Homo sapiens: one gene and its partner. The protein of the gene in region 1 interacts with the protein of each later gene in a biochemical or structural test. Each region holds a gene or a part of one and is shown on either strand. Other genes may lie near its edges.

Region 1 (3,500 bases):
CATAAAGACAGGAAGCAGAATGGTGGCTGCCAGGGACTGGGGGAAGGCGGGAATGGGACATTACAGAATGTAAGCTTGGGAAGATGAGTGAAGTTTTACAGATGGACAGTGGTGATGATTATACAATAATATGAATGTACTTAACGCTACTGAACTATACACTTAGAAACAAAGAAAATGGTAAATTTTGTTACCTATATTTTACCACAATTAAAACAGAAAAAAAGGCCTCGTGCGGTGGCTGACGCCTGTAATCCTAACACTTTCGGAGACCGAGGCATGCGGATCACAAGGTCAGGGGTTCAAGACCAGCCTGACCAACGTGGTGAAACCCTGTCTCTAATAAAAATACAAAAATTAGCCAGGTGTGGTGGTGCGCGCCTATAATCCCACCCTCTCGGGAGGCTGAGGCAAGAGAATCTCTTGAACCCGGTGGGGGCGCAGTGGTTGCAGTGAGCAGAGATCGTGCCACTGCACTCCAGCCTGGGTGACACAGCGACACTCTGTCTCAAAGAAAAAGAAAACAAAAAAAGGTAAAGAAGATAATACTCAGCTGAGACTGGGCAAAGTGGCTCACGCCTGTAATCCCAACACTTTGGGAGGCCAAGGCAGGCAGATCACCTGAGGTCAGGAGTCCAAGACCACCCTGGCCAACATGGTGAAACCCCATCTCTACTAAAAATCCAAAAATTAGCTGAGCATGGTAATGGGCGCCTGTAATCCCAGTTACTCAGGAGGCTGAGGCAGAACAATCACTTGAATCCGGGAAACGGAGGTTGCAGTGAGCAGAGATCGTGCCACTGCACTCCAGCCTGGACGACAGAGTGAGACACTGTCTCCAGAAAAAAAAAAAAAAACCCTCAGCTGAATTAGGTTCATTTCTGGTGGATCACAGTAAAATCTGTTTTTACTTTCATTATTCCCCAAAAATAGAATTAGTCATTATAAGCATGAATAATCAAGCTCATGACTTATATTTTACATTTGCTTTCCTGGAAATTTGCTCCATAAACACCGTAAAAATCTTTTTAGAGTTAAAATGTCCATCTTCTGGACAGGCATGGTAGCTCACGCCTGTAATCCCAGCAATTTGGGAGGCCGAGGCGGGTGGATCACGAGGTCAGGAGATCTATACTATCCTGGCTAACACGGTGAAACCCCATCTCTACTAAAAATACAAAACATTAGCCAGGCGTGGTGGGACGCGCCTGTAGTCCCAGCTGCTTGGGAGGCTGAGCCAGGAGAATCGCTTGAACCCAGGAGGTGGAGGTTGCAGTGAGCCAAGATTGTGCCACTGCACTCCAGCCTGGGTGACAGAGTGAGACACCGTCTCGGAAAAAAAAAAAAAAAAAAAAAAACTTCGCGAGTTGCTGTGGCTCGCGCCTGTGATCCCAGAACTTTGGGAGGCCAAGGTGGGCAGATCACCTGAGGTCAAGAGATCGAGACCAGCCTGACCAACATGGAAAACCCTGTCTCTACTAAAAATATAAAATTACCCGGGCATGGTGGCACATGCCTGTAATCCCAGCTACTTGGGAGGCTGAGGCAGGAGAATCGCTTGAACCCAGGAGGCAGAGGTTGTGGTGAGCCGAGATTCCACCACTGCACTCCAGCCAGAGCAACAAGAGTGAAACTCCATCTCAAAAAAAAAAAAAAAAAAAAAAAAAGTCCATCTTCTTATCGAGATTAATCAGAAATAAATGTGAAGGGAAAAAAAACTTTTCCCAGGTATCTTTTTTTTTTTTTTTTTTTTTTTTGAGACAAGTCTTGCCCTGTTGCCCAGGCTGGAGTGTAATGGCGTGATTTTGGCTCACTGCAACCTCCGCCTCCCCAGGTCACACTGTTCTCCTGCCTCAGCCTCCCGAGAAGCTGGGATTATAGGTGCCCGCCACCACGTCCAGCTAATTTTTGTATTTTTAGTAGAGACAGGGTTTCACCATGTTGGCCAGGCTGGTCTCAAACTCCTGACCTTGTGATCCGCCCACCTCAGCCTCCCAAAGTGCTGGGATTACAGGAGCGAGCCACCGCACCCAGCCTCCCCAGGTATCTTATATTACCCTTCATCATTTATCTTTTAAATCTCTATCAGCCTCCAAAACAGGATCAAAAATAAATGTTTCAAACTTTAGCAAAAAGATCATTCCAACTCCATAAATGAATGCAAGAGCAATATCTAATACATAAAGTTGACCTACCTCAATTTTTTACTTCTAGTTTAAGTATAAAATGGTCCTTCTTGAACTGGGGGTTTTGTGAAATCAGCATATTTCAAAAGTGTTCACAAACCTTTGAGAGCCTTCTGCAATGTCTCCAAACAGCTGACCAAATGTTGATGCCCTCCAGAACTCATCACAACCCTCTTCTCCTGTGTCAAGTGGGAAAACATTTGAGGTGAAAATTAACCAGGCCAACAGTGTTTTAGGTAAACATACACATTATCCTAGTAGTAATATTGCAGGACAGTCTATAGACTCAATATAGTCTATAGATTTTGTAGACTATATAGAGTAACACTGGTCTACAAGTGTTACTCTGTCCATCCATGCAAAATCCATATATATGAGTGTAGAAAAAGGTATTCCTCAGCCAGGCACGTGGCTCATGCCTGTAATTCTAGCACACTGAGAGGCCAAAGCTGAATAATCACTTGAGTCCAGGAGTTCGAGACCAGCCAAGGCAAGATAGAGAGATCCTGTTTCTATTTAGTCAAAAACAAAAAAGAAAACGTTGTATTTCCACATCTAAAACAAAAAAACCTTTAGAGAAATATTAGGAAGAATCAAAATGTAATACATGAGATCTGCCGCCTGTGGAAGTGACCACATGCTAAGATATAAACAGTTAAATAAGATGGCTCAGGAGATTTGGTAGTGTACAAATTTAACAAGGTGATTTGCATGTAATCTGAGAAACACAACCAAATTTTAAGAAAATGAGATTGACTCTAAAAAACAGAACATATAGGCTGGGTGCGGTGGCTCACACCTGTAATCCCAGCACTTTGGGAGGTCAAGGCGGGTGGATCACGAGGTCAAGAGACTGAGACCATCCTGGCCAAAATGGTGAAACCCCGTCTCTACTAAAAATACAAAAATTATCTGGGCGTGGTGGTGCACGCCTATAGTCCCAGCTACTCAGCAGGCTGAGGCAGGAGAATCACTTGAACCCAGGAGGCGGAGGTTGCAGTGAGCCGAGATCACACCACTGCACTCCAGCCTGGCGACAGAGAGAGACTCTGTCTCAAAAAAAAAAAGAAAAAGAAAAGAAACAGAACATGTAGTCCAGAAAAGGGACTTCCAAAGAACAAAAACTTAGCCTAGTTTGAGGCCGGTTGCAGTGGCTCACGCCTGTAATCCCAGCACTTTGGGAGGCCAAGGCGAGCAGATCATGAGGTCAGGAGTTCGAGACCAGCCTGGCCAACATAGTGAAACCCCATCTCTACTAAAAATACAAAAATTAGCCAGGTGTGGTGGTACGCGCCTGTAGTCCCAGCTACTCAG
Region 2 (3,500 bases), on another chromosome or scaffold:
AGGCTGAGGCGGGAAGATCACGAGGTCAGGAGATCGAGGCCATCCTGGCTAACACAGTGAAACCACCGTCTGTACTAAAAATACAAAAAAAAAAAAAAAAAAAAAAAAAAAAAAAATTGCCGGGCGAGGTGGTGGGTGCCTGTAGTCCTAGCTACTCAGGAGGCTGAGGCAGGAGAATGGCGTGAACTCTGGAAGCAGAGCTTGCAGTGAGCCGAGATCGCGCCACTGCACTCTAGCCTGGGCAACAGCAAGACTCCGTCTCAAAAAAAAAGAAAAAAAGAAATACTGCTCTAAATTTCAAGATGCGATTTTTGAAATGGGAAATGAACAGCGAGGTCTTTGTGAGGAGCGCGGCTGGGTACATACCTAAGGTTTCCCGTTTTAGAAAATGGGTCAATACATTCATCCCTTGATAATATTCGGTGAGAAAAAAGCTTCTTCTCGGGGTCTAAAAAGCCTTGGAAAAGAAAACAGGACAAAGATTACATACCTGAGACACGTTTCGGTCACACGGCACATGGTGAAGCCTTGAATGTTTTTTTTAAAGTGGCAGACACACAACATGATGAACTGGCACCAAACACTTCATCCCTTTTGAGGTAAGACGTGGCTCGTGTGGGGCTTCTTTTCTCTTATGGTGAACTTATTTCTCAAACACAAACCATGTTGATAAGTGTTTATAATTCTACTAACATGAAAAATTTGTAATATCTTACTGAAGTGCCTATCTAAACCAGATGGATATGAAAATTATGGAAGGCACTTGCATAAGTAAAACAGGTAAGTCATCATTTGATCTCAAAACACTCTGCATGTGGTTCTTCACGTGATGGAGTCTGGACACTAAGCTGAAATTACTCTGCGTCACCTCGGATATGATCTTTCCTAACCCCAGGCGGGTGGCCCACTGCTCTCATCTGTAATGGTTAGTGGAGGAAAGGTTATCAAGGAAGTTTGCTTCTCCCAAGTTACTTTAGTAGAATTATACAAACTCACACTCTGTGTTGTAGAAATACACAGAAAGGCCGGTTATTTCTAACTATTATACACGTTTTAATAATGGTAATTTAGGCAACATCGAGGAAGCCTGCCTGACAGAGGAGACTGGGAAGGAAGGACATCCGGGACACCACCTTGACCAGCTAGTGCAGAAGGTGCTTCCACAGCGAAGAATCCGCTTAGGCTACATTTGACACTTGCACTTCACATGACATCCGTTAATTACAAGTCTAGTTTAACTTTTTAACAGTAATTTTCTAAAGAGCTTCACATGCTTGATGCTCAGCTTCGACTCCTTAAAGATAGTAAAACCAAGCTATCTGCAAACATCCCTTCTACACTTCAGGAAGCACCACTGTGAAAATCAACAAATCAGGCAGAGGTTTCTTGGGATCACCTCTGCTCTGGGTTTCTTGATCTATAAATTTATCTTCTGAACTTTAAGCCTACTGTGTTATCTTCCTAAGTTTGCAAAGTCTTCAATTTACAGTAAAGTGCTCATATTTTTAAATAAAGATAATTTAAAAATAAGTTATCTCTTGTTAGTTTACAAGAACCACAGAGTATATAGGAAACATATTTCAGTTTGTAGAAGTAGGGGTACTAAACAAAAACAAAACAACCTTTCAGGTAATTTATTCCATTGGTAAAATATGTTGGAGGCATCAAGTTCAATGTCAATTTAATTTCACCAGCCATTTAAAACATTCTGGAGAGAAAAAGCTACGGTTAATTATGAAGCCTCAAAAAGAAATGTTTCAGCTACTCATCATACAAGTGGCTGAAGCCATAAATCTGCACATACCTCAAGAGATAGGTATTCCATGGCACCCACATAACGTGTTTAAGGGTATTCGATCATTTAACATTTACTGAGTTTAACATTACTTGGAATTTTGCTAGGAATATAAGGTGCGGGAATGAATACAACATAATTATTACTCTCCCAAGAGGCTGAAATTGTAAGAAAATTGAACACATTAACACACAACCTCTATCTGGCCTGACACGTGCAGGTGCCGTGGAACAAAACGGGGACTGGATTGCACAAGAGTGAGCCGGTCCAGAGTCGGGAGCTGGGACTGTGGTCTTGTCATGGCACGCAGGTCCCCTGCATAACCGTTAGTTATGCATGAAGCAAAGGAGGTAGATGAGACATCTCAAAAGCACTGTGAACCCAAAGTCCAACCACGCAGCCCACATTCTCTCAAGACTTAAGTCTCACTGGAACGCCTGGCTCCACGCCTCTGCATGGCACACGGGGTCCACTTCCGGATCCGAATGCACCCCGGAACGCCTGGCTCCACGTCCCCACGTGGCACACGGGGTCCACTTCCGGATCTGAACGTGCCCTGACTGCACTCCACATAATCACTATTGTTTTCACGCTGGCTTTTAATCAACTACTCCCTGCACCCATCCCTACTGGGCTCAACCTCTGCACCACCACCTCTGAGATCACAAATGCGAGAAACACATTTGCTGTTTTTGATACAGGTTAAAACATACACATTACAATTAAAACAGAAGAGCTGCTCTGTGCACCACCTCAGTTACCCTGCAGCCCCACGGCACTATGCACAATGCACTGTGGGATCCGTAAGATCTTCTGGGAAGATGAACCTGCTTCCTGGCTGAAGCATCACCACCTCCAGACGTTTCAAATGCAGTACTGCCAGGAGCTTTCCGTTCCCTGATACCACTGGTTTGTTAGTATTTCATTAACCAAAAGATACTTGGGCTTAAAGGAGAAATAAATGCGATTGTTTCTCACTATGCGTAAATTCCAGATGATCACTGAGGCCATGAAGTCGCTAGATCTAAAGTCTGTTAATAGAATTATTAGCGTCTCTACTATCAGATAAAAGACACGCATCGCAAACTCTTAACATCTCTGTCCTAGTCATACTGAAAGCACGCATGCTATCAACACGGTCACTTTCAAAATGAAAAGCATCAAAAGCAGATGCTCGGCGACCACCTCAGGCTTCAGTCCGGACCTCACTTTCTCACTTGTAGAAAAGCTGACCCAGGTCATCTCTACAGATCCCGCCAGCCACAATGAAGCAAAGCTCGGCCTTCCTGAACCACAGCCTGGACACAGTCTTCCTCCTGCGTTGCTGGGCTCGAGGGCCCATGTTCTGTTGAGAATTTCTGCATCCATGTTCAAAGGGATACTGGTCTGCAGTTTTCTTGTGATGTCTTCGTCTGGTTTTGGCCGACATCCCTTGGACACGTTGGAATGCTGGAACTTTAGCATAGAAAGCAGAGCTTGAAACGGAGAAGGCACCAGACGGCCCGGTGACGCTCAACAAACCTAGCTGGTCTCACTGCAGGAGGACCCGCGCTCGAGGCTCTCCGCAGCCAAGCGCCCACCAGCAGGCTCCCTGCTCTGCTGTCTAAGCGGCTCAGAGGCCTGCGGATGTCTGCATGGATGCTCTGCTGAATCTGCGAGCAGCTCCCAGGCTCCCTCCAGCTTTCAGGCTGATAAAGAAACATGG

The links. Proteins that work in one complex are often made in the same cells at the same time.
Region 2: the proteins of MED1 (region 1) and CTDP1 form a complex in vitro, tested with the Homo sapiens proteins (one study listed by BioGRID).

What each region holds. Positions count from the first base shown.
Region 1 is NC_000017.11:39,441,264-39,444,763, forward strand, and holds part of MED1 (mediator of RNA polymerase II transcription subunit 1), read right to left. Parts: intron 2,366-3,500; coding exon 2,287-2,365; intron 1-2,286. UniProt on the Homo sapiens protein: Component of the Mediator complex, a coactivator involved in the regulated transcription of nearly all RNA polymerase II-dependent genes.
Region 2 is NC_000018.10:79,707,303-79,710,802, reverse strand, and holds part of CTDP1 (RNA polymerase II subunit A C-terminal domain phosphatase), read right to left. Parts: intron 458-3,500; coding exon 367-457; intron 1-366. UniProt on the Homo sapiens protein: Processively dephosphorylates 'Ser-2' and 'Ser-5' of the heptad repeats YSPTSPS in the C-terminal domain of the largest RNA polymerase II subunit. This promotes the activity of RNA polymerase II.